Homo sapiens: one gene and its partner. The protein of the gene in region 1 interacts with the protein of each later gene in a pairwise test. Each region holds a gene or a part of one and is shown on either strand. Other genes may lie near its edges.

Evidence for each region.
Region 2: the proteins of RUSC2 (region 1) and MAGEC1 interact in a two-hybrid assay, tested with the Homo sapiens proteins (one study listed by BioGRID and IntAct).

Annotation. Positions count from the first base shown.
Region 1 is NC_000009.12:35,496,605-35,500,413, forward strand, and holds part of RUSC2 (AP-4 complex accessory subunit RUSC2), read left to right. Parts: intron 1-3,809. UniProt on the Homo sapiens protein: Associates with the adapter-like complex 4 (AP-4) and may therefore play a role in vesicular trafficking of proteins at the trans-Golgi network.
Region 2 is NC_000023.11:141,902,376-141,906,843, forward strand, and holds the start of MAGEC1 (melanoma-associated antigen C1), read left to right. Parts: upstream 1-1,518; 5' UTR 1,519-1,603; intron 1,604-2,341; 5' UTR 2,342-2,439; intron 2,440-2,594; 5' UTR 2,595-2,697; coding exon 2,698-2,701; intron 2,702-3,033; coding exon 3,034-4,468.

The DNA of each region.
Region 1 (3,809 bases):
CCCATAAGAGTTGTTATGAATGTAACATGTAAATTTACTATCACTGATGATTCCTCTGAAGAATTTCATGCAACCACCAGAAGGTGCAAGATCCTAGAGATCTACATATCTTAGGCATTTTCCAGGAGTACTCCTTCAACTGTCGCCCTGCACCTGATTAAGCTGGATATACTATAGTAAAACAATATGTAACAGATCCATGCACTACATGGTGTTATTGTGGAAATGGCCCTGACACATGGCCACTCACTTGACAGCTGTACAAAAGACAGTTATGTTTTTGCCTAGAGGACGCTAAGGTTAAAATTGTCTTTATTGCTCATCTTCCCCACTGATACTGAGCACACCTGGCATAGCTGAGATTAAACTATGAGTATGTATACTTGAATCTGGCATTTAATCCTCACAAAACGAATAGTGACTACACAGTCAAGCATCTTTAATGGGCAAGTACTTGAGCATCCAACCCATGTAAAGTTTGACGATCTGCACCTCTCCTGTCCTTCCCCTTAGAGAGTGAGTACAAGTTTCTAGATGACAGGTTCGGTGTAGACTGTTCAGATGCATCTGGCCAAGTTGTCATGATTTCTCATTGAGGGAAGAGAGATACGACACAGCAGTACATTGTGGATATGTTGAACCCATTAATTGATAGTGCAGCCATCACTGAGAAGCAACATTCAGTCTTTTCTTGCAGATCTTTACTGTACAACCCCTTACTGATATGACCCCATTTGTTGAGCTGTTGTGGATGAAAAGAACTTAATTGGGTTAGTAAACTGGAGAACTGTTTTGTTTTGGTGTTGCAAACCCATTTGGGTAGAATTTGTTCCATGGGTCAACAACTCTGTATCCCCTGGCCATGTATAAGAACATCACAATTATGTATTACCAGCCATATATCCGAATACTATATGCTACTTCTCCTGAAGTCGGCAGCAGATTGTATATCCTAATAAACACATCTGTGGGAAGCTATCTTAGGACAACAAGATCTTCATTATACCCCAAGAAGATCTCCAGACCTAGGGTGATTAAAACATTAACTGCAGACATTAAAGACATTGATATTATTAATGATATGCACACTCATGTCCACTTAACTGACCCTCTTGCATTGGCAGTGGGCCCATTAGTAGATGTAGAGGCTATTAAACATGAGATCATTGGGCATGCAGATTCAGTCTCCTCCTTTCACTCCTTTGGTGCAGGATTTATCACTTCTCTGTCCCTGTGGAACATTGTGAAAGATATGTATCTACATCTGTCACACTTAGACGGAACTTTGTTTCTCCTATCTTTTGTTGTAACTGCCATAGGAAAATTATACATGTACTACAGGACAGTAGAACAACTTTGCCTATATTCTCAGCTAATTAAATAAAAAAGCTGGTTTTTATGTGTTGATTTTGTACCCTGCATCATTGCTGACACTAAAAAATGCTTAGGGTATTTGCAACTAATCATTATTAGTTCTAATGTTTTTGTGGCATCTTTAGGGTGTTCTCCATACAAGATCGTGTAACCTTGGAACAGAGATAATTTTAGTTTTGGTTTTTTTTTTTTCCCAATTTGTATGCCTTTTATTTCTTTTTCTTACCTAATTACTCAGGTAGGAATTCCAGGACTGTTAAATAGAAATGGCAAAAGAATGCCAGGTTTGGTGGCTCATGCCTGTAATCTCAGCACTTTGGGAGGCTGAGGCAGGCAGATCACGTGAGATCAGGAGTTTGAGACCAGCCCGGCCAAAATGGCGAAACCCTGTCTCTATTAAAAATACAAAAATTAGTCAGGCATCTTGGCGCCTGCCTGTAATCCCAGCTACTTGGGTAGCTGAGGCAGGAGAATTGCTTGACCCCGGGAGGCAGAGGTTGCAGTGAGCCAAGATCATGCCACTGAGCTGAGATCATGCCACTGCACTCAAGCCTGGGAGACAGAGCAAGACTCTGTCTCAAAAAAAGAAAGAAAAAGAGGCCAGGCGCGGTGGCTCACGCCTGTGATCCCAGCTCTTTAGGAGGCCGAGGTGGGTGGATCACGAGGTCAGGAGATCAAGACCATCCTGGCCAACATGGTGAAACCCCATGTCTACTAAAATTCAAAAAAAAAATTAGCCGGGTGTGGTGGTGCGTGCCTGTAGTCCCAGCTACTCAGGAGGCTAAGGCAGGGGAATCACTTGAACCCAGGAGGCAGAGGTTGCAGTGAGCCGAGATCGCCTGGCGACAGAGTGAGACTACATCTCAAAAAAAAAAAAACAAAAAAAGAAAAAAGAAATGGCAAAAGTGAACCATTTCTCTTAACACACAATCCTTATGGGATTGTTGATTTGGTATGCAAGTCCTTAATAGACACTGAAAACAACATTATTTTAGCCTGGTATATTATTAATGTTAACAGTAGTGAGGCCAGGCGTGGCGGCTTATGCCTGTAATCCCAGCACTTTGGGAGGCTGAGGCAGGCAGATCACTTGAGGCCAGGAGTTCAAGACCAGCCTGGGCAACATGGTAAAAGCCCAGCTCTACTAAAAATACAAAAATTAGCCAAGCGTGGTGGCATGCACATGTAATCCCAGCTACTTGGGAGGCTGAGGCACAGGAATTGCTTGAACCCAGGAGGCAGAGGCTGTAGTGAGTTGAGATTGTGTCACTGTGCTCCAGCCTGGGCGACAGAGTGAAACTCTCAAAAACAAAAACAAAAAACAAAATAGTAGTGAGTCATCAAGAAAAGTTAAATTATAGCCTACATAATACATTTTAAAAAGTTCTGCCAAAACACTTAAAGTTTTTAAAAAATTAATTTTGATACTTTAGGAAGAAACCCTCTGTTCCTTGGAATTGTTGGTTTAATAAAAGTCTTTTATCTTCAAGAAAATGAGATGGTAAACTCTGAGGTATGTGTTGTATTTTTGGCTTCTTGTGTGAGTTCCTGCAGACAAGGACAATAGACTGATAACTGGGTGGAAAGAAAAATAGGGCCAGCCAACTTCTGGCTAAAGTTTAATTATCTTAGGATCAAAAGTCTATACTTAACTTGTTTATCTTAGGATCCAAAAAAATCTGTATTTAATTTATCTGTTTTTATACTTTGTGCTTCCTTTCTTTTCCTGTATAATTCTTTTTAAAAAAAGAAAATGCACCCTTGTATTTAGTGTACTTAGGGAAAATGGACATTTATTTTTATCCACGCCCAGGCAAAAGAAAAAGAGCAAAGTTCTCCTAAAGGCAGCATAGATAGGATTTAGATGAACCCAAGGTAAAAAGCAAAAACTGCAGGGGAGAAAGTTGGGAACCTACTACTAGTCCCGTTCATCCTCAAGTTGTTTCTCTTCCAAAATGTTCTTTACTTGTTTTTTGAAAGTTGTTTATTTCTGTTTAAAGATACAGTCAAACTTTGTTAAAGTTGGCTGTATTCTATTTATTTAAAGTTATAGCCAAACAGAACAGCTTATTTTTCTAGAGTTCCGGATAGCTAGAGTTTTTCTATAAGACTAATGATTTCCTTTTAAACATCTCCCAAAGCCTAGTGATTCAGACGTTTCTGCCTTACTGTATTAGTCTGTTTTTATGCTGCTGATAAAGACATACCCAAGACTGGGCAATTTACAAAAGAAAGAGGTTTAAAGGACTTAAAGGCAAGGAGGAGCAAGTCACATCTTACATAGATGACAGGCAAAGAGAGAGAGAGAGCTTGTGCAGGGAAACCCCCTTATAAAACCATCAGATCTTGTGAGACTTATTTGCAACCACAAGAACAGCACAGGAAAGACCTGCCCCCATGATTCAATTACCTCCCACCAGGTCCCTCTCACAACA
Region 2 (4,468 bases), on another chromosome or scaffold:
AAAATAGCCTTTGATTGGGAATTAAGTGATTATTTTTTATGATTTGATGTAGGTTACGTTTTCTCGGAAGATGAACAGAGAAGTGAAGTGCCATTCTTATCATATCATACCGACGGCACATAATACCAACACAATTTGTCACTGATGATGTTACTTTGATCACCATGGTGACCTAGTGTTTGTCAGTTTTCTTCAGGGTAAAGTCACATTACTTTTTTCCCTGTGTCATACTGTCATCTTGGGAAGGATAGGAAGACCCAGGACCAGCCAGTAGTCAGATGAGGCCTCTGAGGGAAAACTGCAGAAACCTCCTGCCCACAAAGAAGAGGATCCACAGAAACCAGCTCCCCACCTGTTGTCATCCCTGGGAGGCCCAGGGGCATGTTGACCCACAGTGCTGTCCCCTGACGTCTTAGCGTGTAGAAAGAGGAGAAGGCTGTGCTTAGGTGAGTCTCACTTCAGATCATGAGAGCGGAAGATCAGGAGGGGGGCCTTCTAGGCATCCCCAGGCTGATACAGAGGATGGACTGGTGAGCTACCCCACCACGGACACAGGAGGATCCCCAAAAACCTGCCCGTTTTCACTGCTAGGAGGCCTTGGGCAGGGCCATTAGGGAGAGACGCTAGCGTGCTCCAGTCCCTCTTGGGGGGTTCATGGAAATGGGAACCTTGATCTGAAAAACAGTCCCTGGAGAGAAGAGGGAGGGAGTGGAGGCCGTATCAGGAATAATAGGTTGAGGAAGACTGAGGGTCCCTCCCATGCCATTTCAGACGGAGGGCAGTGGAGCCCTACCTGGAGTCTGGGAGGCCATACCCCACTGTGGATGGATGTGATTCTACCTCTCTTGCACCTTGCAGGTCTCAAGGATGGGAGGGGCTTATTCGGAGGTGAAAGACTCAGATGCATAGAGGCAGGGAGCCCAGACAATGTCAGGAGTCCAGGAACAGCCTCTCAGGAAGGCAGGAAGGGAACACCCATGACTGGTAGTGCTGCCTGTCCTGTCCCTGTGCCTGCTGCCAGCCATGGAGGAGCCCATCAGGGTCCCCAGATTTACAAATTTCTGACTTCCATTTTGGGAGTCAGCCAGAGGGGAGATTTTCTCTGAGGAGGGCAGCTTCAGTTAAACAGAGGGAGTAGCCCCAGGGCTGGCCACTCAACAAGAAGAGAACTCTGTCGAAGGACAGTGACCTCCGAACACGGGGGAGGCACAGGCTGCACCCTGCCACTCCCTGCTGTCAGCCCTGGAAAAAGGTGGGGTGTGAGTGTCAAGGACTGGGGAGGTGGGAGGGAAGAGGTCAGCAGGGCTTAGGGAGTGAGCAGAAAGGTTTGGAGCACATCCTGGAGGTGGGAAGGAAGGGATGGAAAGGAGGCTGACAAGCGGGCGGCGGGGGGGGGGCGCCTTCCTCCTCTGAGAGGAGGCCCCGCCCCACGCTATCCGGGCTGTCAGCCCTGATCAACCCTGACAGAGTTCCCGGATGTGCTTTGCCGGATGTGCTTTCCCGGCGGCCATCTTGGGAGTCTGAAGGACCTGAGGCATTTTGTGACGAGGATCGTCTCAGGTCAGCGGAGGGAGGAGACTTATAGACCTATCCAGTCTTCAAGGTGAGGGCCCCGAGGGAGAAGTGAGGGACAACCCCACCACAGAGAGAAGCAGCCCTGGCCTGCCCTATCCCTGCGGTGGCACTTGTAGGTGGCGGAAACGAAGATGGTAGCCGAGGGCTGAGGGACGTGTCCTCACGGCAGAAGAAGGGAGGAAATGCCGGCCCTCTAGAGAATAAATAGGAAGGCATTGAGGAGGACCGGGGGAACCCCCACCTCAGAGGACAGATTCCCAGAGATTCCCACCCTGCTCCTCAAATCAGCCCCCATAGAGCTCCCCAGGTGGCTGAGGCTGAGCGGCCACCCTCTCACTGCTGGGTGAGGGGTGTAGGGGAGGGGGAGGAGGAGGCCTTGTTCTGGGGGTCCCATGGCAAGTCAGCATGGGGAGCTGCCTCCAGTTGGCAGAGGGAAGATTCCCAGGCCCTGCTGGGAACAAGAGTGAGGACTGAGGGGTCACATGTGCGTCAGAACAGACGTGAGGCCACAGGGACCGCCCCCGTGGTAGAGTGCTGGGAGGTGGCTGCCACCTCACTACCTCCCACTGCTCTCAGTGATGTGGAGTTTTCCTGAGGTTTTTCCTCAGGCCAGCAGAGTGGTGGGGGCCTGGCCCTGTCTGAGAAAATGTGACAATGCTAATTGAATTCTGAGGGGGTCACGAACCTCAGAATTGTGGGACTCTGGGAGTCTGGCCAGCCCCAGCTGCCGTCTTAGCTGGAGGGGCTCCCTCCCTTCCTCTTGCAGGTGCTCCAGAAAGCAGGAGTTGAAGACCTGGGTGTGAGGGACACATACATCCTAAAAGCACCACAGCAGAGGAGGCCCAGGCAGTGCCAGGAGTCAAGGTGAGTGCACGACCTGACTGTGTACCAAGGGCCCTACCCCCAGAAACAGGGCAGACCTGGCAGCACCCGGCCTGTAGCCACCCACTGTCATTCCTGGTGCCTCAGGCTCTGCCTGCCAGCTGTGCCCCGAGGTGCTTTCTCGCGTCCTTCTACAGGTTCCCAGAAGACAAACCCCCTAGGAAGACAGGCGACCTGTGAGGCCCTAGAGCACCACCTTAAGAGAAGAAGAGCTGTAAGCCGGCCTTTGTCAGAGCCATCATGGGTGAGTTTCTCAGCTGAGGCCACTGGCACTGTCCCTCTCTCCCTCAGTCCTGTGGGATCCCATCATACCTATTCGTGTTCACACGTTTACCTGCTGCTCCTGAACAATATTCATCATGCCTCTCTTTCTAAACCTTCCACGCCCCAGCTTTGAGCAAGGCTTCCAGAAGGCAATTTTCATACTGGAGTTGGTAGATGCAGAGGATCCCCCAGATGAGGAAGAGGAGGAAGCTTCCTCCATTTTCTCTTCCTCTTTCCACTTTTTATTCCCCTCGTCCTCCTCCTGTTTTTCTTTCTCATCCTCATCCTCCTCTCTGCTTCTGCGTTCTCCAGGGGACAAGGATATGCCTACTGCTGGGATGCCGAGTCTTCTCCAGAGTTCCTCTGAGAGTCCTCAGAGTTGTCCTGAGGGGGAGGACTCCCAGTCTCCTCTCCAGATTCCCCAGAGTTCTCCTGAGAGCGACGACACCCTGTATCCTCTCCAGAGTCCTCAGAGTCGTTCTGAGGGGGAGGACTCCTCGGATCCTCTCCAGAGACCTCCTGAGGGGAAGGACTCCCAGTCTCCTCTCCAGATTCCCCAGAGTTCTCCTGAGGGCGACGACACCCAGTCTCCTCTCCAGAATTCTCAGAGTTCTCCTGAGGGGAAGGACTCCCTGTCTCCTCTAGAGATTTCTCAGAGCCCTCCTGAGGGTGAGGATGTCCAGTCTCCTCTGCAGAATCCTGCGAGTTCCTTCTTCTCCTCTGCTTTATTGAGTATTTTCCAGAGTTCCCCTGAGAGTACTCAAAGTCCTTTTGAGGGTTTTCCCCAGTCTGTTCTCCAGATTCCTGTGAGCGCCGCCTCCTCCTCCACTTTAGTGAGTATTTTCCAGAGTTCCCCTGAGAGTACTCAAAGTCCTTTTGAGGGTTTTCCCCAGTCTCCACTCCAGATTCCTGTGAGCCGCTCCTTCTCCTCCACTTTATTGAGTATTTTCCAGAGTTCCCCTGAGAGAACTCAGAGTACTTTTGAGGGTTTTGCCCAGTCTCCTCTCCAGATTCCTGTGAGCCCCTCCTCCTCCTCCACTTTACTGAGTCTTTTCCAGAGTTTCTCTGAGAGAACTCAGAGTACTTTTGAGGGTTTTGCCCAGTCTTCTCTCCAGATTCCTGTGAGCCCCTCCTTCTCCTCCACTTTAGTGAGTCTTTTCCAGAGTTCCCCTGAGAGAACTCAGAGTACTTTTGAGGGTTTTCCCCAGTCTCCTCTCCAGATTCCTGTGAGCTCCTCCTCCTCCTCCACTTTATTGAGTCTTTTCCAGAGTTCCCCTGAGAGAACTCACAGTACTTTTGAGGGTTTTCCCCAGTCTCTTCTCCAGATTCCTATGACCTCCTCCTTCTCCTCTACTTTATTGAGTATTTTCCAGAGTTCTCCTGAGAGTGCTCAAAGTACTTTTGAGGGTTTTCCCCAGTCTCCTCTCCAGATTCCTGGGAGCCCCTCCTTCTCCTCCACTTTACTGAGTCTTTTCCAGAGTTCCCCTGAGAGAACTCACAGTACTTTTGAGGGTTTTCCCCAGTCTCCTCTCCAGATTCCTATGACCTCCTCCTTCTCCTCTACTTTATTGAGTATTTTACAGAGTTCTCCTGAGAGTGCTCAAAGTGCTTTTGAGGGTTTTCCCCAGTCTCCTCTCCAGATTCCTGTGAGCTCCTCTTTCTCCTACACTTTATTGAGTCTTTTCCAGAGTTCCCCTGAGAGAACTCACAGTACTTTTGAGGGTTTTCCCCAGTCTCCTCTCCAGAT